Linked DNA regions of Homo sapiens. The protein of the gene in region 1 purifies or fractionates together with the protein of each later gene. This does not show direct contact. Each region holds a gene or a part of one and is shown in the gene's direction. Other genes may lie near its edges.

What was found.
Region 2: the proteins of KLKB1 (region 1) and GPHN purify together in Homo sapiens (affinity purification with mass spectrometry; 2 studies listed by BioGRID and IntAct, with this or other methods). This does not show direct contact.
Region 3: the proteins of KLKB1 (region 1) and ZBTB1 purify together in Homo sapiens (affinity purification with mass spectrometry; 2 studies listed by BioGRID and IntAct, with this or other methods). This does not show direct contact.
Region 4: the proteins of KLKB1 (region 1) and NCAPH purify together in Homo sapiens (affinity purification with mass spectrometry; 2 studies listed by BioGRID and IntAct, with this or other methods). This does not show direct contact.

Annotation. Positions count from the first base shown.
Region 1 is NC_000004.12:186,237,490-186,244,527, forward strand, and holds part of KLKB1 (plasma kallikrein isoform 1 preproprotein), read left to right. Parts: intron 1-766; coding exon 767-876; coding exon of another isoform or gene 877-909; intron 910-915; exon of another isoform or gene 916-1,556; intron 1,557-1,675; exon of another isoform or gene 1,676-3,005; intron 3,006-7,038. UniProt on the Homo sapiens protein: Participates in the surface-dependent activation of blood coagulation. Activates, in a reciprocal reaction, coagulation factor XII/F12 after binding to negatively charged surfaces.
Region 2 is NC_000014.9:66,511,110-66,518,147, forward strand, and holds part of GPHN (gephyrin), read left to right. Parts: intron 1-7,038. UniProt on the Homo sapiens protein: Microtubule-associated protein involved in membrane protein-cytoskeleton interactions. It is thought to anchor the inhibitory glycine receptor (GLYR) to subsynaptic microtubules.
Region 3 is NC_000014.9:64,514,761-64,521,798, forward strand, and holds part of ZBTB1 (zinc finger and BTB domain-containing protein 1), read left to right. Parts: intron 1-1,839; exon of another isoform or gene 1,840-1,991; intron 1,992-3,596; exon of another isoform or gene 3,597-3,778; intron 3,779-6,726; 5' UTR 6,727-6,744; coding exon 6,745-7,038.
Region 4 is NC_000002.12:96,373,763-96,377,626, forward strand, and holds the end of NCAPH (condensin complex subunit 2), read left to right. Parts: 3' UTR 1-3,329; downstream 3,330-3,864. UniProt on the Homo sapiens protein: Regulatory subunit of the condensin complex, a complex required for conversion of interphase chromatin into mitotic-like condense chromosomes.

The DNA of each region.
Region 1 (7,038 bases):
ATCCTCTTCCCCTACTTCTCCAAAGCTGATTCTTGCAGGTCTTTCCTCAAATACCGTCCCCTCCAAAAGCCCATTTCTGAGCATTCTCTTTTAAGTCACACTCAGCTCTGTTTATTTCATTCATAGAGCTAATCACAATTTGATATTAACTTGTGATTTTTTTCCTTATTTTTAAATCTTATTTTTATTTGCATAGATGTATGGGGTACAAGTGTAATTTTGTTACTTTGATGTATTTTACAGTGGTAAAGTCTGGGCTTTTGGTATATCCATCACTGGAGTCATGTACATTGTACCCACTAAGCTATTTTTCAACGCCCGCCCCCTTCCCACCTCTCTGTCACCTTCCCAGTCTCTACTGTCTATCGCTCCATGCTCTACTCAATTTTGGTGTCATTTTTTCCTGAAGCAAAATTTTGGTGTCATTTTTTCTGAAGTCATTTTCTGAAGTCTGTGTCATTTTTCGCTTTCCTGAAGCGAATTTTGGTGTCATTTTTCCTGAAGTTCCGTTTGCCCCACACATAGGCCTTGCTTATAGAATGAGGGTTTAGTGTCACGGAGTCTCCTGCCTCATTCTCACCCTAACTTTTCCTTTACCCCTTTGCGAGGGGAAGGATGTCCATTAGGTTAATAATGCAGACCCCTAACCCACTCATTATCAGGGTCATTGTTTTTCCACTGTGCATTTTAATACTAACTGTTACCTGCACTGCTCCCTGCCCCTCAAAGTGCAGAAAGCAAAGTAACCTCTTTTCTTCCCATTCAGGAACAATTGCCTATTAAAGTACAGTCCCGGAGGAACACCTACCGCTATAAAGGTGCTGAGTAACGTGGAATCTGGATTCTCACTGAAGCCCTGTGCCCTTTCAGAAATTGGTAATTGTAGGACTACTTCACTTTGTGATTGTGGTAGGTGGAATAGGAGCCCCCAGAGACGTCCCTGTGCTGAGCCCTGGGACCTGTGCGTGTGTTCCCATAGCTGGCAAAAGCGTTTCTGTCAATGGCATGCAGTTACGGGCTTCGAGATGGGGAGTTTACTCTGGATTTTCTGAATGGGCCCAATGTACTCACAGGGTTGAGTGCTCACAAGGCTCATAAGAAAAAGAGAGAGGCGGAAGGCTCAGAGCCAGAGAGAGAGGTTTGAAGGTATTACACTGCTGGCTTTGAAGATGAAGGTCCGTGAGCCAAGGAATGCAGGCGGCCTCTAGAAGTTGAAAAGGGCGAGGAAAGAGTTTCCCTGTGGAGCGTCCTGGAGGAAGAAGCCCTGCTGATGTCTTGATTTTAGCCCAGTAAGACCCAATCTCTAGAACAGTAAGATAATTAATTTGTGTTGTTTTTAACCACTAAGTTTGTGGTTATGCCCCTAGAGCAGCAGTTATAGGAAACTAGTACAGTGATACTGTTAGAGTTATAGGACAGTGATATAGGACAGTGATACTGTTATAGTTATAGGAAACTAGTACAGTGATACTGTTAGAGTTATAGGACAGTGATATAGGACAGTGATATTGTTATAGTTATAGGAAACTAGTACAGTGATACTGTTAGAGTTATAGGTACAGTGATATTGTTATAGTTATAGGAAACTAGTACAGTGATACTGTTACAGGTACAGTGATATAGGACAGTGATACTGTTATAGGAAACTAGTACAGTGATACTGTTAGAGTTATAGGTACAGTGACATAGGACAGTGATACTGTTATAGTTATAGGAAACTAGTACAGTGATACTGTTAGAGTTATAGGTAGAGTGATATAGGACAGTGATACTGTTATAGTTATAGAAAACTAGTACAGTGATACTGTTATAGTTATAGGACAGTGATATAGGACAGTGATATTGTTATAGTTATAGGAAACTAGTACAGTGATACTGTTAGAGTTATAGGTACAGTGATATAGGACAGTGATATTGTTATAGTTATAGGAAACTAGTACAGTGATACTGTTAGAGTTATAGGTACAGTGATATTGTTATAGTTATAGGAAACTAGTACAGTGATACTGTTATAGGTACAGTGATATAGGACAGTGATACTGTTATAGGAAACTAGTACAGTGATACTGTTAGAGTTATAGGTACAGTGACATAGGACAGTGATACTGTTATAGTTATAGGAAACTAGTACAGTGATACTGTTAGAGTTATAGGTACAGTGATATAGGACAGTGATACTGTTATAGTTATAGGAAACTAGTACAGTGATACTGTTATAGTTATAGGACAGTGATATTGTTATAGTTATAGGAAACTAGTACAGTGATACTGTTAGAGTTATAGGTACAGTGATATAGGACAGTGATATTGTTATAGTTATAGGAAACTAGTACAGTGATACTGTTATAGTTATAGGACAGTGATATAGGACAGTGATATTGTTATAGTTATAGGAAACTAGTACGGTGATACTGTTATAGTTATAGGTACAGTGATATTGTTATAGTTATAGGAAACTAGTACAGTGATACTGTTAGAGTTATAGGTACAGTGATATAGGACAGTGATATTGTTATAGTTATAGGAAACTAGTACAGTGATACTGTTATAGTTGTAGGACAGTGATATTGTTATAGTTATAGGAAACTAGTACAGTGATACTGTTAGAGTTATAGGTACAGTGATATAGGACAGTGATACTGTTATAGTTATAGGACAGTGATATTCTTATAGTTACCGTGGTATAGTTATAGTTAAAGGTACAGTGATATTGTTATAGTTATAGGACAGTGATATTGTTATAGTTATAGGACAGTGATGTAGTTACAGTGATATAGGTACAGTGATATTGTTATAGTTATAGGACAGTGATATAGTTATAGGACAGTGATATTGTTACAGTTATAGGTACAGTGACGTTGTAATAGTTATAGGACAGTGATATTGTTATAGTTATAGGTACAGTGATGTTGTAGCAAAACTGTAAGGTCATTCCTTGGTTGTGTCCCTATCTAGTGAAATGACTCTACCAGGGGTAGGGAAATAAAACTCTGTCGTTTCACACATAAAGGTAATTTCAATGGAATTATCCAGAAAATTGCCATGACATTCCACCTCATTTAGCATGTCAGGATGTTAATGACAAGATGTTACTAAAAGCAAATCCCTTACGGCCAGTTTTCCGCAGTACTGGGTGCTGGCTCTGTGCCTGGCCCTGTATTGGGTGCTGGGCTAGGATTTCCCTGTGGAAGATTGGGAAGGTTGGTTACAAGGTGGCTATTTTCCTGTCTCCTCTTTGCGACAGCACACCTTCTCCATGGTGTGTGCCAGGTTCACGTGTACTGGTGATTTAATTTTAACGTTCATATTATTTTTTTCTGGGAGAGTTTTTGAAGGCTGCCAGGAGGCAGGACTCGATGCAAACATGCTCCATTCTGTACCCAGCCCTGTTGCTGGAAGGATTTGCTGCACTTACCCAGGGAACAGGCAAGCTCGTGCTGTGGCTCTGGGCTGTCACAGCTGCTGTCCACACCTGGGAGAGCACCCTGGATGGCTCATCTGTGTACTTGCTTTCTTGTTAAATTGCAGTGAGTTCACATGTGATTTAATCGGATCAAATGGCCTTTACAGACTGATAAAAATATGGCTGTTTCAGGTGGTGTTTTGAGCTGCTAAGGGCGTGGCTTTTCACTGAGTACGTGGTCCCCGTTCCTCAGGGAACACCCAGTAGCCACATGCCTCCTAAACCTAGAGTAGGGCTGTCTCCTGGCCTAACTGCCCAAATGAGATTCATAAGTTAGGGATGATCTGTAGTTATCACTACAGATTTGTCCTTGGTTTCACCAAGGATTTTCCTAATTTTACAAACAAAACCCCTAAGGCTCCTGGAAGGAGGGTAGAAGTGAAGGTGCTCCGGGGGCAACACAGCTGATGAGCTGAACCAGAACTCGACCCTTGGGTCACACACATTTCACAGTGCTCACTCCACCTTTTGTTTTTTTAATGGATTTAATGGTGTTTTAAAGCCTCCTGCCTCTCAACACATATGAATTCATTATATTTACAGATTTCCTTCTCTTGTGGTCCATCTTCCTGCATAGATCTTGAGAGATGTCAGGCTAACCACGTTTCCTCAGTTAATTTAACAAAACCATTTGCAACTCTGACATGGAAAATTCCTACCATGTGACTTATTAATTTATCAATTGAGATGGTACACATATTTTCAAGCCAAAAGGAGGAAAACATAAATTGGAAAAAAAAGGTTTTTTTATTTTTATCACCTCTGGGGAAGAAAGTCTGATAAACGAAGCTGGTTGATAAAATTGCAATTAGGGGAAGCAACATCATGGTTTCTGTTCGGAGGCTAACCAGATGGCATACTTGAAATAGAGAATGTCCTAGAAATCAACTGGTTGCTTGGCCAAAATATCTATAAATAGTGCCCAACATATTAGATAGGAAAAGCAAAGTAAAAACAATTTTAACAGGTTAGGACATTGGGCTGAAGTATTGCATATATTTAATGTCATGTGCGTCCGTGTGAAGAGACCACTAAACAGGCTTTGTGTGAGCAAGAAAGCTTTTTAATCACCTGGGTGCAGGCAGGCTGAGTCCGAAAAGAGAGTCAGTGAAGGGAGATGGGGTGGGGACGTTTTATAGGATTTGGGTAGGTAGTGGAAAATTACAGTCAAAGGGGGTTGTTCTCTGGCGGGCAGCGGTGGGGGGTCACAAGGTGCTCAGTGGGGGAGCTTCTGAGCCAGGAGAAGGAATTTCACAAGGTAACGTCATCAGTTAAGGCAGGAACCGGCCATTTTCACTTCTTTTGTCTTTCTTCAGTTACTTCAGGTCATCTAGATGTATACGTGCAGGCCTGGGCCCAGAGGCCTGACATTCCTGTCTTCTTATATTAATAAGAAAAAGAAAACGAAATAGTGGTAAAGTGTTGGGGTGGCGAAAGTTTTTGGGGGTGGTATGGAGAGATAATGGGCGATGTTTCTCAGGGCTGCTTCGAGCGGGATTAGGGGCGGCGTGGGAACCTACAGTGGGAGAGATGAAGCTGAAGGAATATTTTATGGTAAGGGGTGATATTGTGGGGTTGTTAGAAGCAGCATTTGTCATATAGAATGATTGGTGATGGCCTGGATATGGTTTTGTGTGAAATGAGAAACTAAATGGAAGACACAAGGTCTGAATAAGAGAAGGAGAAAAACAGGTGTTAAAGGACTAAGAATTGGGAGGACCCAGGACATCTAATTAGAGAGTGCCTAAGGGGGTTCAGTGTAATTACTTGCTTGGTTGGTGAGTTTTTGGGCTCTATCCTTGACAGAGTCCTCCTTTTTAAGTTGGAGGCTGAGCTTGGTGAGGTGTGTTTTTAAAAGACCATTAGTCTGTTCTACCTTTCCTGAAGATTGAGGATGGTGAGGGGTATGAAGGTTTTACTGAATACCAAGAGCCTGAGAAACTGCTTGGGTGATTTGACTAATAAAGGCCGGTCTGTTATCGGATTGTATAGAGATGGAAAGGCCAAACTGAGGAATTATGTCTGACAGAAGGGAAGAAATGACCACGGTGGCCTTCTCAGACCCTGTGGGAAAGGCCTCTACCCATCCAGTGAAAGTGTCTACCCAGACCAAGAGGTATTTTAGTTTCCTGACTCCGGGTATGTGAGTAAAGTCAATCTGCCAGTCCTGGGCGGGGGCAAATCCCCGAGCTTGATGTGTAGGGAAGGGAGGGGGCCTGAGCAATCCCTGAGGAGGAGTGGAGTAGCAGATGGAACACTGAGCAGTTATTTTTTGAGGATAGATTTTTACGACGGAAAGGAAAAGTGAGGTTTTAAGAGGTGGGTTAGTGGCTTGTAACTTACATGGAAGAGTTTATGAAATGATGACAGAATAGAATGGGCCTGTGAGGCTGGAGGAGATATTTTCCTTGGTCCAAGAATTATTTGCCTTGTGTGGGAAGAGATTGATAGGTGGAAGTTTCAATGGGGGAGTAGATGGGAGTGACAGATGAGGAAGAAAAAAACTGGCTGTGAGGGATAGAAGTTGGAATGCTCGCTGCTTTTTTAGCTACCTTATCAGCATAGGCATTGTCCTGAGCAGTGGGATCTGATGCCTTTTGGTGGCCCTTGCAGTGAATGGCTTCAGCTTCCTTTGGAAGTAAAGTGGCCTTGAGAGGAGTTTTTATTAAAGAGGCATTAAGATGGAGAACCCTTGTGTAGTGAGGAAACCTCCTTCAGCCCATATAACCGCATGGTGGTGCAGAATATGGAAGGCATATTTAGAGTCAGTATAAATATTGACACGTAGTCCCTTTGCAAGAGTGAGGGCCTGAGTTAAGGCAATGAGTTCAGCTTGCTGAGAGGTAGTGGAGCGGGGCAGAGCAGTAGCCTCAGTGATAGATGTGGAAGATACTACAGCATAGCCTGCCTTTGCTGGTGAGTGGTGATTAGGCCTGGTGGAACTGCCATCAATAAACCAAGTGTGATCAGGGTAAGGAACAGGAAAGAAGGAAATATGGGGAAATGGAGTGGATGTCAGGTGGATCAGAGAGATACAGTCATGGGGGTGGGGGCCAGCCTAAAACAGTAAGGTCAAGTTGTTTGAACAGAAAGGCTACAGGGCGTGGTCCTGGCTCTTGTGTAAGAATTTTGACTGCGCAGCCCTGCACTTCGGCTGTGTGTAATGAAAAGGGTTGGGATGAGTTAGGGAGAGCTAGTGTGGGAGCAGTTTCTAGGGCTGTTTTTAAGGAATGGCAAGAGGAGTGGCTAAAGGATTTAGGATCTTTGGGGTCAGCTAGCTTTGCTTTTGTGAGTTTATATAATGGTTTAGTCAGGATGGTAAAACTTAGTATCCAAAGGCGGAAGTACTTAACCATACCTAGGAAGAAAAGGAGTTGTTTTGTAGAAGGGGTTGGGGTTTGGGAGATGAGCCAGACACAATCAGCAGGGAGAGCACATGTGTTTTCATGAAGAATTATGCCGAGATAGGTAATGGATGAGGAAGAAATTTGGGCTTGACTGAAGTAATGGGGGCTGTCCTCGAAGCCTTGTGGCAGTACAGCCCAAGTAAGTTGCTGAGGCTGACGGGTGTCAGG
Region 2 (7,038 bases), on another chromosome or scaffold:
AAAACTGATTTTTCTCAAGTCTGTAACTAGTGGGTTTCATTATCAACAGCTTAATTTCTGTGGTCTTGCCTGATATACCATATGATTTGGGGGAAAGAACTTACAAAAATGAAGCTGTGCTGTACAATTTTGTGTATTCTAGAACTTGAGGTTTTGCAGTTTTACTATGTAGAATTATTCTTTACTGAACTGAAGTATTGTGATTTCATACTTAAGAAAGTTGAGTTGAACTGTGGTTTTTGTAAATTATTATTTGTGGCTCTTAAAAGGTGGAGGGTCTCTTTTAGAAAATCTCCTTGGCATGCTTCGTAATACTAATTTTAAGTATTTTATCTATATCTATTTTACAAAGATAGTGGAAAGTGTGATCTACCCACACACACATTTTACAATATGTTACTTAGTATTTTGTGAAGTCATATTGTCATTTCTAAAGTTTTTAATTGACGTTGTGACATTTTTTATTACCTGTTGAAAGATATTTGTTCTTTGAAACTTTTCATCCATTAGATGTTTTCGTTATCTTCATTTCAGTTGTAAATTTGGCAAATTTAGTACATAGTCTGTTGAGACTTCTCATTAAATAAATTAATTGTATTAGGTTTATGAAAGAATAATGGTAGAAAGGGAAATATTTAGCAGAAGCATTTTTTTGCTTCATTATTTTGAATTATTAAGCACTTGAAAATGAGATTATGATAATTAATGTAACATGGATATTCTAATTATACTTTTTTTTAAATCAGGAAAATGAGAACATATATGTATATAAAATAGGCTGTATGTGGAAACATTTTATGTTGAATATTATTGTCCATCTCTAACAACAATAACTTTGTTCGAAACTGTCTTATGTTGACTTGACAGAAATGAAAGTCACATGGTGTTTGGTGACCTAAGGTCTAGTTTGAAATATTTCTGTGTCTAATTAGTTGTCTACTTGTATTACTATTTATAGAAGAGACTAGAGGTAATATGGTAATGAGTAACATGAAGCAAATAAACAAGTATCTGCTACTTGAAAACTAGAAACAGGATGTGGTGCAGATGTAGAATTTTTTTCTAACAGCTTTAGTAGTGATTATACTTGAAGTCAATCTTACCAGTTACATAGCAGGCTCACTATATCTGGAATATGTCACTCTTCACATACTTTTTTCTATTTTGAAAGAAGCTGTTTATCAAAGCAGCATACTAGTTTTACCTGTAAAAGCTCTACAGAAACATTACTAGGAAAATAATGACTACATGTATGTATAGAATGTAGAATCATATAGATTATTCCATTGGCTACTGAATATCGTATTAGTTCGCTACAGCTAATGTTTGATACCAAGGTACTTAGCTGAAGATGATAATCCATTACCTAAATTGTCACTAATAGGGGCATGAATGAGAAAAAGGTACAAATTTTTGGGAAAGGGCATTTTTAAAAATCATATTTTTGCTGTAGTAATATACATTTTAATTGCACTAACCTGTTGATTTGAAATCAGTAAGAGATACTGGAACAAATATAAGACTAGGTACTAGAGATTAGTTAAAAGACTAATTGTAAATGAGAACATCAAAATATTACAGTAACAGGTAGGGAGTATTTCAGTTATTCATAAATGAAGTCATTCAAAGTATTAAAAAAACAAGCTTGAGCCAAGCAGATGCTACTGTCATAACTCTGCAATTGTTTAAGCATTTACTTTTTTACATTCTTGAAACCTGTTCTGGTATATTATGTGTCAATATTATTTTCTGAAAAGCCCATTTATTGATAAGGATATATACATATTATATCTGTTTTGAGAATAGATGTCATTAAGTAGGCAAATTACTATTAAATCCTACTAAGTGGAACTGTATGTTCTGCCTAACTTAGCTGTTTTTTTAATATGTGTTTTTAATATTGATCTATATGACTTGAAAGGAATCCTATTTCTTGAAATAGATTGTTATTTTGTGAATTTTTTGTTGAAAGCAATGTATTAGAGAATTAAATGTTTAGGCAAAGTAGGAAAATGTTAAATTAATTTCTAATGAATATACTTAGTACTATTATCATTGGTCAAAGACTTGAAAAAGTATTAGTTGCTATACAATAAGAATTTTAACTATATTAAAAACACATGTGACAATTTGACTTCAAAGTGAATATACTTAATACTATCATCACTGGCCAAGGACTTGAAAAAGTATTAGTTGCTATACAATAAGAGTTTTAAATACATTAAAAACACATACAACTATTTGACTTCAAGCAGGCATATAGTGGAAAGTCAATAGTATGTTTTTAGGGAGGAAGTGACGAATAAGAGTCTATTTTTAATCTTGCTAGTGATAGATTCCTGGCTAAGTTGAACAGGGTGTTTTTAAAAACAATCAGTAAAATAGATAAAATCTATTACTCTGTTTCTGTAAATAGGATTGAAGAATAATGAAGCATATTTGGAATTTGAAAGGTATTAAAAAAAGATCCTGAAAAAGAAAGTAGTGAAACCACAAAGGATTTCTTCCTTCACATCTGGGCAGAGAAGATAAATACCAAGGAAGAAGAAAAGATTGTTTAACCTACTTAAAAGTAATTGGGACTGTAGTCAATATGAATGGCATCTAATCTCACTTTCATTAAAAAGTTTTTTTGAGTGACCTCTCAAAAAGGAAATGTTTAATGAAGTATTGCTAGGTAGAAGTTCTATCCAGGTTCTTTAATGAATTTATAAACTAAATTGTTTTTAATAAATTAATTTTAACTAAGTAGAGCTTCTTGAAAATTTTGTGTTTAAACAACCCCAACAATTTTAACAGTAGCTTTGTCAGTATTTATACATTTCGAAAGAGTGTAATTAAATTTACCATGCTTTAAAAAGAATTCTTAATTTGAAAAATAAAGCAGCAAGGAAATGAAATATGATGAAGGAATTGTCACCATAATTTGGGGCATTCTTCTCAAACTGGAGTACATGACATTGTGTCAAGGGATACCTATAAGGCTTAGAATCTAAGCCACAGGAACAAACATAATAATTTTTTAAGTACCAATTTTACTTGATGGTATTAATTTAAATAACTTTAATATTAAGATAAGCATAAGTAAATTAGGCACAAAGTATAGAATTCATATGAGGCTTTAAGATGAAATTAGAAACTTCAAAGAAATTTCAAGTGAGCCCATTATATTTCAAGTGAGCTCCAGATCTCGTCATTCTTCTGCGTTATTGACACTTCATGGCAAAAAATTTAAGGAGCACTGAATCATAGAAAGAACACTGTAAGAACTATGTTCTCATACTATTCTGGCTAGTAAAGTTTTGTAACCTTCAGTATATTGTGTAACCCTCTCTCAGCTTTTCTTACCACTAAAATGAAGAAATCACTCTCTAAGATCACTTCAAGGCTCTCATGGCAGTATATGTTTCTATCTTTTAGCATTCTGACCAGCAGGAAAGAGAAATATAGGATATTAGACCTAGTTAATTTTTTTCTGTCTTTATAATGGGAATGATTATAGGGGAGGGTAGGTTATACATAAAAATGCAAGAGAATAAGAAATAGAATAATGATCAAAGAAGGAAAATATTTAGATTTTTTATTTAGAAATTTTTGTGACATTAATCTTTCTGTTATTAGCAATCTTACACTTAGGTTTCAGACACAGCTCAGGACTGACTTTGTCAATAAAATATTTCCTAGGAATTATTCTCTTCAATGATGTCTTTCTTTGTTTTCCTTACAACGTTTATAAATGTTGTCTATACCCTGTAATCTATATGTGGGAGGCTGCATGGTGTAGCTTAAAAAGGATAGAACTTTGGAGTCAGATAGACTTGGACTTCAGACCCTCATTTGCCCTTTATTTTGGGAAGTCATTTCACCTCTCTGAATTTCAGTTTTCTTCTCCGAAATGAAGATGGCAATATCTACTTTACAAAGTTTTCAGAACTAATAGAGGTAACGCATATGAAAATGCCTAGCATTTTCAGATGAGATACTCAGTTATTTTTGGTTCCTTCCTCTTTGTATGTTGCTTTGGGAGCAACTTGCCACAGTTTCGTGTATACATGTCTTATTCAAAGTAGATTTTAAAGTTCTTGAGATATATGGTTATGTTCTTTACTTCTTTTGTGCCCTTTTGTCATAGCATCTGTTAATGAAGTAATTGGATAGAAGGTGTTTAATAAAAAAATTGGGTGGTGTAAAATTTATATAGTACCTTAAGAAACATTTAGGTAAACCAGAACTTGGCTATTATTACTAAAAGGATAGTTTAGGGTAGATGGAGTGAAGTTGATTAGTTTTTAAAAGGTATGTTTTTCTGGTAATAGGATGATATTTATAACGATGTGTGTTTGAGATGTTTTATAGCATTAAATTTTGTATATTGTTTTAGTTGGGTGTTGTTTGTGTGAGGATAATTTTAGACTAATGAAATTTGATATCTAAAAACTAAAAATTTGAAATTATAGGTAAAAAAATTCTGAAAATGCTGTTAATGTTGATTCTGGTGATCAAAATAACACTGTTAGGAGTCAAAAGTTATGCCTCTTCTCCCACTTTCAAGATAAGCACATTTTACCACAGTTTCCTTACCTTTAAATGGGGGTAAGTGTGTTTACCTTGATGGGTTAATGTGAGAAATGAAATAATGTATTCAGTATTCAACACCTACTATGTACCAAGGCCCTGTGCTAAGTGAAGGATACAATAGTGATTAAGACAGTTCAATCTTTCTTGTCTTGAAGCATATATTCTAGCACTACTGTGAAAACATTATTCAGTCAAGTTGAATATTGACACATTCATGCTTCATTTATGTTTCAAGGAATAAGGTGCTTTTATATTTTATTTTTTAAGTAGATAACAAGTACAAGCACCAAAACTGTTTTTATGTCAAGCCATTTTTTTGATACACATTTTTTTTTTTTTGAGACGGACTCACTCTGTCGCCCAGGCTGGAATGCAGTGGTGCGATCTCAGCTTGCTGCAACCTCTGCCTCCCGGGTTCAAGTGATTCTCCTGCCTCAGCCTCCCGAGTAGCTGGGATTACAGGCGCCTGCCACCATGCCTGGCTAATTTTTTTTTTTTTTTTGTATTTTTAGTAGAGACAGAGTTTTACCATGTTGGCCAGGCTGGTTTTGGACTCCTGACCTCAAGTGATCTACCTGCCTTAGCCTCCCAAAGTGCTGGGATTACAGATGTGAGCCACCGTGCCTGGCCAGCAATTATATTTCTACATTCTATTCTGAATATCTGTTACTGTGACATGATAGTATGTTTCCATAACGTATATGCTTTTCAGGTTTTACCCACTTGCCCTTCCTCTTCCTGCCCTGCCCTTCTAATCTACTATATCCTTGGGAACCACATAAACTTGCTAAGAATTATTTGTGATATTACATCCAGTTAGATTTGAAGTGAGGGTCTAAAGGCACATATTTTCACTTTTGGGTTCAGGGCATCAGAAAATGAGTGGATATTACTATAATAAATAGCTTTATTTCTTTGTATAGTACTTCACGATTTCAGGATCATGGCTAAATGTGTCTGCCTGATGCTGTAAATGTTAATAAAAATCCACTCTATGAGTGAAAGAGATTAAGTGCAATTTGAATGCTAAGTAAAAATGAAATGTTTCTTTTAATTATTTCTTGTTCTTTTAAAAAACACATTAATGTGCACTTGAAATTAATAATCTTTAAAGTCTAATTAATGGTTAAGAACTGTTGGATATCTTATAAATAAGAAACTGAGCCAGGCACAGGGGCTCACGCCTGTAATCCCAGCACTTTGGGAGGCTGAGGCGGGCAGATCACGAAGTCAGGAGATTGAGACCATCCTGGCCAACATGGTGAAACCCCACCTCTACTAAAAATATGAAAATTAGGCAGGCATGGTGGTGTGTGCCTGTAATCCCAGCTACTCGGGAGTGAGGCAGGAGAATCACTTGAACCCCTGAGGCAGAGATTGTAGTGAGCCAAGACTGTGCCACTGTACTCCAGCCTGGCCACACAGTGAGACTCCATCTCAAAAAAAAAAAAAAAAAAAAAAAAAAGAAGAAACTGAATAGAGTAAAAATACTATTTTCAGATGTAAAAAGATGAAGGAACATTTACACGGTGGTGCCCCCCTCTTCACTTTCACCTAAGAGTCTATACAGAACATTTTGATTATAGTCTAAACTTTAAAAATTATGCTTTCATAAAATTAACATCCACATTGTAGAAGTTACGTTTGGATTAAACTGCAAGTGGGCACTACCCAAAGCAATCTACAGATTCAATGCAGTCCTATCAATGACATTCTATACCAATGACATTCTTCACAGAAATAGGGAAAAAAAAGTTAAAATTTGTATGGAACCATAAAGGACCTGGAATAGCCAAAGCAATCCTGAACAAAAAGGACAAAGCTGGAGACATCATACTATCAGACTTTAAAATATACTACAGAGTGATAGTAACCAAAACAGCATGGTACTGGTGTAAAAACAGACACATAGACCAAAGGAACAGAATCGAGAACCCAGAAATTAATCCTCATATCTACAGCCAACTGAGTTTTGAGAAAGGTCCCAGGAACATTTGCTGATGAAAGGACAGTATCTTCAAGAAATGTTTCTGGGAAAAAGGATATCCATATGCAGAAGAATGAAACTAGAGCCCCACCTCTTATTCTGTACAAAAATTAACTCAAAATGAATCAAAGACCTACATGTAAGACAGGAAACTATGGAACTGCTAGAAGAAAACATAGGGGAAATGTTTCAGGACATTGGTCTGGGAAAAAATTTTATAAATAAGACCTCAAAAGCACAGGCAAAAAAAGCAAAAATAAACAAGTGGATTATAGTAAACTAAAAAGCTTTTATACAGCAAAGGAAATAACCAACAGAATGAAAGGCAGCCTATAGAATGGGAGAAAATATTTGCAAACTGTTCATCTGACGGGGGATTAATATCTAGGATATACAAGAAACTCAAACATCTTAACAGCCAAATAAATAAATAAATAAATAAATAAATAACCCAGAAAAAAACAAAACAAAAA
Region 3 (7,038 bases), on another chromosome or scaffold:
CATGCCCTGTCCTTGTTTAGTGTTCTTTCCGGAAGACCATACTGTATAGTACCAAGGAAGTGCCATATATAGAGGTTATTACTATCTGGGTGGTCAGGAGTCCTTAGTCCTAGTATGTGCTTCAGCACAGTTAACTATACCCTGATACATTAAAAACCATGTATCTTTGCCTTCTATGGAATAAGAATGTTAGACTAGATTAGATCTCTCTAAGCTCTAAAAATGTATGATTAAATTACTTAATATGCTTAATGTGCTTGGTGACTGTTTTTAAACTTGAGATGAGCCGTTAAACTTTTTCAGACTAAAATTTTAAAAATCCAGTATAAAACTTTTTGGATCACCTAACTCCTTAATTCTTGCTAGAGTTCTGCACAGTGGGTATCCTTCTAGCCTTAGTGTAACTCTTGGCATTATATAGCTTGTTTTCCTTATCCAAATGACATTAAGTCCTTTGAGTCACATTGGAGGTTCTGCTCTCAGACCTGAGCCCTTGACTTCTAGTTGTGCTAAACTTGTCCTACCAGTGATGCAGCTAGTAGTACAAACAAAAGCAATCACAGATTTCAGTCGTAAAAACAAGAACAGCTGAAATACAAGCTGTCCATTTACTTAAAACCTTTTATAGGCTTTACTAGAACATAAAGTTCATTAACTTTTTTTGGCAGCATTAATAAAGAGGTCAAAAAAATGAAAAAAGAGCAAACTCCTCTTGGAATTTGAGTGAAATTATAATTTAATGAAAGTGAATGCCTCATAATTTTTTTTTTTTTTTTTTGAGATGGAGTCTTGCTCTGTCGCCCAGGCTGGAGTGCAGTGGCACAGTCTTGGCTCACTGTAAGCTCCGCCTCCCGAGTTCCCGCCATTCTCCCGCCTCAGCCTCCCAAGTAGCTGGGAATACAGGTGCCTGCCACCACGCCCGGCTAATTTTTTGTATTTTTAGTAGAGACAGGGTTTCACTGTGTTAGCCAGGATGGCTCGATTTCCTGACCTTGTGATCCACCCGCCTCCGCCTCCCAAAGTGCTGGGATTACAGGCGTGAGCCACGGTGCCCGGCCTCAAAAATTTTTAATGAAAAAATTATCTTCAAGAGATAAGCTAAAAGTCTCACAGGAATTTAGATCCCTCCTCCCCTGCCGCATACTCCTCTACCTGTTTTTGGTGTAGTAATCCTTCTTAAAGCTTTTCTGGGCTAGGCACAGTGGTTTATACCTGTAATCTCAGCACTTTGGGAGGCTGAGGTGGGAGGATTGCTTGAGCCCAGGAATTCGAGACCAGCCTGGGCAACATAGCAAGACCTCATCACTACAAAAAATATACAAAAATTAGCCAGTCATGGTGGCGTATGCCTGTAGTGCTAGCTATTCAGAAGGTGTGAGGTGGAAGGATTGCTTGGAGAATGAGTACCCATATTAAAGCAGGAACAGAATGCTATTGAGGACATTCTGAGCTATGATGGCATGCCAGCCTGGGTAACAGAGTAAGACCCTGTCTCAAAAAAATAATAATTAAAATTTAAGAAAAAAGCTTTTCTGAATGAGGTGTAACAAGGACAGAGTTTCTGGTACTAATGTGTCAATGATTGCTATTATAAGTTACTGTGCCTAAAATCAGTTTTACTCAGAACTTGGACATTTGCATAATAATGTTACTTAAACTACAATTCTAGGTCAGCCTAAAAACTGTTGTGTTAGGATTAAAAATTAGACACAGCATTTGTTCAGCTTCCATTTGTTCAGCTTCCAGCTCTATAGGGGGAATATAGGAGTATAAACATGGATGCAGTGGGATTCACACTGTGATCCGTCTGACTGAGAGCACTTGTTCTTTCTACTACAGCATGATGCCTTCTTCTGTAGAGTGGGCGCTTTGCAGAATACGTGTTGAATGAAATCACTGATCTAGGAAAAGTAAAAATTCCTCAAATGAATACAGAATACTTGTGCTACTGCTGATGATCAACACTTTATACAGTGCCTGGTATACCAAAGGTAGTCAGTAAATGTTTGTTGAATGAATAAATGTGCATTAAAATGCTATAAGTGCTCTTATTTAAATGTTTTAGTGTTTTATGTTAATAAAAGAATATGTATTTTTACTCAGTTGAATTGTGACTATAGCTATAGATGTGCCTATCATATTGATCTTCTATGTAGTTGTATTAATTTTGGTTGCTGATGATAAAACTGCTGCTCATCTAGATAAGAAAGGGTCTTTGGAACTTCTGTGCTCTTTATATCATTATTTCAAGCCTGGACTATTTAATACTTGAAAGTTTTTATAGATTAACTACTGGCTTTCTAATGGACTGTTATTTGGAAGGAAATTTTAAGGTTATCAACTCAAACTTACCTGATGCTTAAATAAGCATCACCACCATTACAACATCCACTATTACTTTCATTATTACATGCCAAGCACGATGCATTTTACACATTGCCTCTGTGAATCCTCATATATGATACTGTATTTGAGGTATTATCCCTACCTTTTCAGTTCAGGAAACTTAGGGTCAATGAGGATAAGCAAGTTCCCAAAAGTGGCAAAGCTAGATAAGAAGCCAGGTCTGTCTGATCCTAGGCCCATGCTCTTTTCACTTATTATACTGTCCTCAATAGCATTCTGTTCCTGCTTTAATATGGGTACTCATTCTCCAAACAAGTTTGTTTCATTCTTGAATTACTCTTATTAATAGAAAGTTTGGTTTTTTAGAAATAATACCTATCCCTCTGCCTCTTACTCTATAGTTTATTATTTATTAAATGTCTCTCTGAATCCTAGAAAAATGACTATAGACATAGAAATTTCATCCTACTTAAAACGGGCTTGGGTCAACATTTTTGTGTATTTTTTTCATCTTTTTTCCCCCCACCTTTTGAATAAGGTTGTGGCGTGGATTTGTTTTATATAATTCTAACATAATTATGTATCCTGTGTTTATTTATTTGGCTCTCCATCTTGAACATTTTTCCCACTTCTGTAGTTGCCATTTAGAAATATATATATATATATATATATATATTTTTTTTTTTTTTTTTTTTTTGAGACAGTCTTGCTCTGTCAGCCAGGCTGGAGTACAGTGGCATGATCTCGACTCACTGCAACCTCCCTCAGCCAGGCTGGAGTACAGTGGCATGATCTCGGCTCACTGCAACCTCCCTCTCCCAGGCGCAAGCAATTCTCTTGCCTCAGCCTCCCGAGTAGCTGGGTTTACAGGCATGTGCCACCACGCCCGGCTAATTTTTATATATTTTTTAGTAGAGATGGGGTTTCACCATGTTGGCCAGGCTGATCTTGAACTCCTGACCTCAGGTAATCCGCCCACCTTGGCCTCCCAAAGTGCTGGGATTACAGGCATGAGCCACTGCGCCTGGCCCAGAAATACAATTTTTAATTCACTGCCACATGACAGTGAATTCTGGGGCGTAGATTTACCTTAAGACTCCTTTTTTTACTAGGCATTCAAATGAGAAGTAACTCATTAATGACTATCTTTGTGCATACATTGCTTTTTGTATTTAGATACATACTGAACATGATTCCTCACAGCTTTTTACAGATACCTGAGTTACAGAGGTTTGAAATATTGTACTTACTTGAAACTTGATCTGGCTTCCAGAAAAGGTGCAGTGGTTGCAATTTTAAGAAGGCAGCAGGTTTCATCATAAGCCATCTTCATTTCACCAGTCCTGTATCTCTGGCTATGGAACTTTATGTCTTAGAGGTGGCAGGATGGGCATATAGGTAGTAAAAGGGGCGTATGACCCATATGTGATCGCTGAGGAATGGATAAAAAGCAAATAGAAGTACGTAAACGTAGATACCCTTAATTACTACTACAGAGCTTGAAGAGTGAACATTTTATTTCTCTAAACAGCTTGTTACATGTTCTTTTTAAGTTCAGTCAAATTGCATAGGAACTTATTTTTAAGTAGAAGATAGATTCTGAAGCTTTATGTATACGGATTAAAAATTGAGGCTAAAATTTGATCTTATTTTAACTTTATAATATGATAGGATTTCTAGTGCTTTTAATACTTCCTCTCCTTTCTTCCTTATCCAAAGTCAGCTCCCTACACTAAAAATACTTAAATGCCCACTAATATTGTCTAATGTTAAATGAAGAAAACTAGTTGCAGAGAGGTATATATATATATATATATATATATATATATAGTATGATACCATTTAGGTTAAAAAACACAACAAAAGCAAAACTATGTGCCTGGCATCTCATAGGTACTCAATATGCTAACTATGTACATGTGCATCTCAACAAATCTGAAGGTATATAATCCAGAGTGTTTGGAGGGGTTACCTCTGAAAAGAGGTGTGTGATCTGAGGTGTGTTTTTATTCTATATGCCTCTATGTTTGAATTTTTTGCTACTTTTTTTTTTTTTTTTGAGATGGAGTCTCGTTCTTGTCACCCAGGCTGGAGTGTAGTGGCACAATCTCTGCTCCCTGCAACCTCCGCCTTCTGGGTTCAAGCGATTCTCCCGCCTCAGCCTCCCGAGTAGCTGGGATTACAGGCGCCCGCTATCACGACTGGCTAACTTTTTTTATTTTTAGTAGAGACAGGTTTTCACCGTGTTGGCCAGGCTGGTCTCGAACTCCTGACCTCAGCCTCACCCTTCCAAAGTGCTGGGATTACAGGCATGAGCCACCGCGCTCAGCCTTACTTTTTTCTTTTAACAATTAAAAAAAAAAAAAAATAGAAGAGGCCAGGTGCAGTGGCTCACACCCACAATCCCAGCACTTTGGAAGCCCGAGGCAGGAGGATCGCTTGAACTCAGGAGTTCAAGACCAGCCTGGACAACATAGCAAGACCTTGTCTTTACTAAAATATTAAAAAAAAAAAAACAAAAAAAAACTGAATGTGGTGGCATGTGCCTACAGTCCCAGCTACTCTGGATGCTGTGGCGGGAGGATTGCTTGAGCATGGGAGATTGAGGCTGCAGTTAGCTATGATCATGCCACTGCACTCCAGCCTAGGTAACAGAGCGAGACCCTGCCTCAAAAAAAAAAAAAGGAAGAAAACTTTACACTCTAAGGATAAATAAAATACCTTCTCAAATAAACCCACTGCTTCTTTATACCCTGAAATGCATGTTGAGCAACATGAGACACATTCTAACTCTATAGAATTATTGCTTCTTTGATAATTCAAGAAAAGACAAAGGCACTGATCAAACTTGTTTGGTGCCATTTCTATATAATCTAATAAGGTTGTTGTTGTTGTTGTTGTTGTTGTTGTTTTGAAACGGAGTCTCGCTCTGTCGCCCAGGCTGGAGTGCAGTGGTGCGATCTCGGCTCACTGCAAGCTCCGCCTCCCAGGTTCATGCCAGTCTCCCGCCTCAGCCTCCTGAGTAGCTGGGAATACAGGCGCCCACCACCACGCCTGGCTAATTTTTTTTGTATTTTTAGTAGAGACAAGGTTTCACTGTGTTAGCCAGGATGGTTTCGATCTCCTGACCTCGTGATCCGCCCGCCTCGGCCTCCCAAAGTGCTGGGATTACAGGTGTGAGCCACCACACCCAGCCCTAATAAGGTTTTTTTAAATTTTTATTTTTGGGATAGAGTCTCACTCTGTCACACAAGCTAGAGTACAGTGGCGTGATCATGGCTCACCACAACCTCAAAATCCTGGGCTCAAGCCATCCTCCTGCATCAGTCTCCCGAGTAGTTGGGACTGCAGGTGCATCATCATGCCTGGCTAATGTTTTTTTGTTTTGTTTTGTTTTGTTTTTAAGGCGAGATCTTGCTATGTTGCCCAGGCTTAATAGGGTTTTTAAAATAGATTATTTTAACAACACATGGCCAATCTTGTATCATCTATTGCTCCCCACACCCACCCCATTTATTTTTAAGCATATCTCAGATGTATCATTTCATCTGTAAATACTAAAGTATATATATCCAAAAGATAAGGATTCTTTTTAACACAATCAAAATACCTTTCTCACACTTAAAAAATGAGCAATAGCTCCTTAGTATTAATCATTTAATAAGTTTTTCATACTTTACAATCTAATTGTTAACTTTCAGTTTAAGTTGCTGTTTTATTTACTTTCATTACTCATATCCTTCAAGAGTTGTTTTCTTTTTTTTTTTTTCTTTTGAGACAGAGTCTTGCTCTGTCATCCAGACTGGAGTGCAGTGGCGTGACGCAACTCACTACAGCCTCTACCTGTCGGGCTCAAGTGATCCACCCACTTTAGCCTCCCAAGTAACTGGGACTACAGGTGATGCCACCACACCTGGTTAATTTTTTAAACTTTTTTGTAGAGAAGAGGTCTCACACTATTGCCCAGGCTGGTCTCAAACTCCCGAGCTCAAGCAATCCTCCTGCCTCGGTCTCCCAAAGTGTTAGGATTACAGGCGTGAGCCACTGCACTCGGCCTCCTTCAAGTATTTTTAAATTAATGTCTTTTTTTCTGTTCAAATTTAGTGTACATGTTCCCCCCAAGAGTTGTAATGAAACTAAAACTGTCTTTTGCTTTTGATGCCTTTGTTCAATATGAAAAGCCTGAATAAATGGCTGGATGTCTTCATCTTCAAATTTAAAAAATGATTCAAGTATATATTATTGAGTTTTATTAGAATGGAAAGCTCTTAATTTCTTGATTGTAATAGCAGTCATGCAAGTCACAAATCATGATAAAAGTTAATTTTGTCAAGTGCTTTTCTATATCTTGTTTGACTTTAATATTTTTGTTTTACATAGGTCTCTAATTAACAGAAGATGGCAAAGCCCAGCCACAGCAGCTATGTCCTTCAGCAGCTAAACAACCAAAGAGAATGGGGTTTTCTCTGTGACTGCTGTATTGCAATTGATGACATTTACTTTCAAGCACACAAGGCAGTTCTAGCTGCCTGTAGCTCCTATTTTAGAATGTTTTTCATGAACCATCAGCATAGTACTGCACAACTGAATCTCAGCAACATGAAAATTAGTGCAGAATGTTTTGATCTCATTTTGCAGTTTATGTATTTAGGAAAAATTATGACAGCTCCCTCCAGTTTTGAGCAGTTTAAA
Region 4 (3,864 bases), on another chromosome or scaffold:
ACATAAAATACATCATATGTACACTTATAAATGTATATAGAATGCTCAAAAATAAAATTCTTAATAATAGAACTGGCAAAATATTTGAGTGTCCACTAGATGAGTATCAGACCTAGTCCTTACCCTTAGGGGGATGCAGTCCTGGTTGTTATCCAGGATACACACCTGTCAGTATAAGGCAGAAGATGCCTAAGGGCCAAGATGGTTTGCCTCGGAGGAGAATGGAAGAGAGAGATTGCTGACTGGACATTCAGATGCAAGACTGGGTCCTGCTTAAATCCCAGGATTCTGCTGGAGGGAGCTGATAGTGATACTTGTCCCTTCTGTACATTGCTTCATGTAGCCTTCTCAGCATCCCTAGGAGAAACTTACTATTGTGACTCTCATGTTGGAGGAGGAAACGGACACCCAAGGTAGAGGAACTTGCAAAAGGGCAGCCGGCAAACTGTCAGGGGTGGCCTGAGCCTGGCAATCTGCCTCCAGAGTCTGCTCTCGGCCATTGTGCTATGTGCTACCTGGATAGGTCATACAGGCTCAGCAGTGGGTGGAGAGCAGTGCTCAGATTTGTCCATCTCCACAGAATGCAGCACACACACAAATGTACAAGTTCTTCCCCTAACCTCAGAGGAATAGGGGAATTAACTTTGCTTGCAATTTGGAACAATATTATAGATGTTGATCCAAGTAGTTCTGTTACTGGCTGGTCCTGGATCTCTGCCAGAACACCCGTCATCATTGACTGGCTAAATAGAGATCTTGGATATAGGCCAGAAGCAGTGAAGTATATAATTGGAAATTGCTCCTGATAATAACTTCCTTCTTAGCCAAAAACCACACAAAACAAAAATAATCCCCTCCCCACAGGAATATGCTTTCCAAATTGTGTCCAAAACATTACCTGCTCTGTTATATTGAGAAGGTTAGAGACTTCAGAGCATGCTTAGAAAAAGCAGTGGTGCCACAGGTGAGACTCCACACTCTGTCTTGCTGGGGCTGAAGCCTCCATCACTTTCCCAGGCCAGGTTAGTGCTGGGCTTCTTGCTTTCCTTCTATTCCTGAGAGTAGAACTGGCTAAGCCCATTCCTTCCCTCAGTCAGCCCCACTTCTCTATAGTGGGTTCTGGGGGTGGGGGGCTGAATTACCAGTAAAACTAGAAAGATTGGGACCAAGTGCAGTGGCCCACACCTGTAAATCCTAGCGCTTTGAAAGGAAGAGGCAGGAGGATTGCTTGAAGTCAGGAGTTCAAGACCAGCCTGGGCAAAATAGAACCCCATCTTTAAAAAAAAAGTTTAAAAATTAGCCAGGTACGGAGGTGTGTGCCTGTAATCCCAGCTACTCAGAAGGCTGAGGTGGGATAATCACTTGAGCCCAGGAGTTTGAGGCTGCAGTGAGCTGTGATCACACTACTGCATTCCAGCCAGGACAACAGAGTGAGATCCTATCTCTTAAACAAAAAAAAAAACTGGCGAGTTCAATACCAACTTCTACAATGAAATCCCCTTCCCCCCACAACCCTGCTTCTCCTAAGTTTCCCTCATTACATGGTTGCTGTGGGCTATGTGTGCTGTGGTCTGAATGTTTGTGTCTAAAATTCACATGTTGGTATTAAGAGATAGGGCCTTTGGGAGGTGATTAGGTTATGAGGGCAGATCCCTCGTGAATGGGATTAGTGCTCTTATAAAAGAGGCCTGAGGAAGCTTGTTCGTTCCTCTTGCCCTTCTGCCATGTAAGGATGCAATGAGAAGGCACCATCTGTGAGCAAGGAGCCCCTCACCAGACAGCAAATCTGCCGGCGTCTTGATCTTGGACTTCTCAGCCTCTAGAACTGTGAACAATAAATCTATTGTTTATAAATTAAGCAGTCTAAGTCATTTTGTTATAGCAGACAAATTGACTAAGACAGTGGGTATGCAAGATAAGTTTATTTTATATAAAATACTTTGGGAAGTAGGTGTTCTAGGACTGGTGTGACAGTTCCATGAAATTATGAGAGACCGGGGATCCTTCCAGCTCATCCTTCTGTTTCAGTGTGGCTGCTGGAATCCAGCCATCACATCCATAGTCTAAGCAGCAGGACGAAGGACTGGGGGAAAAGAGAACTGCTGCTCCCTGTTAAATCAGTTTCCTGGGGGTCGATATGAATATTTGCCACCTCAGGGTGCCACAAAGGTCCCCACCAGCAAGAAGGCTCCCACCAGATATGGACTCAACCTGGGACTTTTCAGCCTCCATAACTGTAATAAATTCCTTTGTCAGTTACCCAGTTTCAGGTATTCTGTTATAGGTAACAGAAAACAAACTAATACAAGTGGTAATGTGTCCAGCTAAAAATTTGGGTTCTGTTAAGGTTAAAAGAAAATTTGAGGTAGCCAGCAGTATCTGCCTCAGATGCTGAGAAGCCTCCTGAGATAAGAGCGTATACCATGTCCATAACTGAAGTTTTAACATTCTCTGCCAAACAGAACCAGAATTTAAGGGCAGGAGAATTTGCAAGATAGAATTTGCAATTTGCAAGAGGGAATTGCAATTTGCAAGAGAGGGGCAATTTGCAATTTGCAAGAGAGGGCAATTTGCAAGAGAGAATTGTGGGGCCCTGAGAGAGAATACATCCAAAGGAAGAGGGAACCAGGCATTACAAATTGAATTGAACAAGGACAGATATCTGAAGGGGGTTTGTAGTTCCCAGTAAAGTATGGTACAGCTAGGTGCACTTCCCTGGCCAGACCACCCTACAGTGTATGATCCCCCTGGGGAGCAAAAGGCTGCAGGTAACACTTTGGTGCCCTAGAAATTCTGCTGTGGTGCAACTATAGTGGATCACAGGCAGAGTGGGGCATTGTTCCCCTTCTTAGCACAGGATACTGGGTCATTTCAACACCACAAGGATTTGCAGCATCTGCGGCAACGAGTTTGGTGTCCTGGAGCAAGGAAAGGAACCGTTCATGGTGGCTGAAGCCAAGCTGCTCAGCACTGAGGCAGCAAGCCATGATCTAGGTCTTCGAGTAGAATTCTCAGTTTTGGTTCATTTAAAAATGTTTTTTGGGGGAATTGGGGATCATTTATGGGTACCAAAAGAAAAAAAAATGAATAAGATCTACTATTTGATAGCACAATAGGGTGACTATAGTCAATAATAACAATTGTATATTTTAAAATAAAGAATGTAATTGAAAAGAGTAAATGCCTGAGGGGATGGATACCCCATTCTCTGTGATGTGCTTATTTCACATTGCATGCCTGTATCAAAATATCTCATGTACCCCATAAATATATGCACCTACTATGTACCCACAACTATTTAAAAAATAATAAAATTTTAAAAAATTGTCTTTATGTTGCCTTTTTTTTTTTTTTTTTTTTGAGACGGAGTCTCGCTGTGTCGCCCAGGCTGGAGTGCAGTGGTGCAGTCTTGGCTCACTGCAAGCTCTGCCTCCCGGGTTCACGCCATTTTCCTGCATCAGCCTCCCGAGTAGCTGGGACTACAGGCGCCTGCCACCATGCCCGGCTAATTTTTTTGTATTTTTAGTAGAGACAGGGTTTCACTGTGTTAGCCAGGATGGTCTCGATCTCCTGACCTCATGATCTGCCCGCCTTGGCCTCCCAAAGTGCTGGGATTACAGGCTGCCTTCATTTTTGAAGGACAGCTTTACTGGATGTAGAATGCTTGGTTGATAGGTTTTTCCTTTGGCATTTGACTGTCTTCCAATGTCTTCTGGCTTCCATAGTTTCTGAAGAAAGGTAGGCATATACTCGTCACTATTCCTTTGTATGTAATTGCTGTTTTTTTTTTTCCCAGACTGCTTTCAAGATCTTTTCTATATCTTTGGCTTTCATCAGTTTAACTATCACATATCTAGGGGTAAT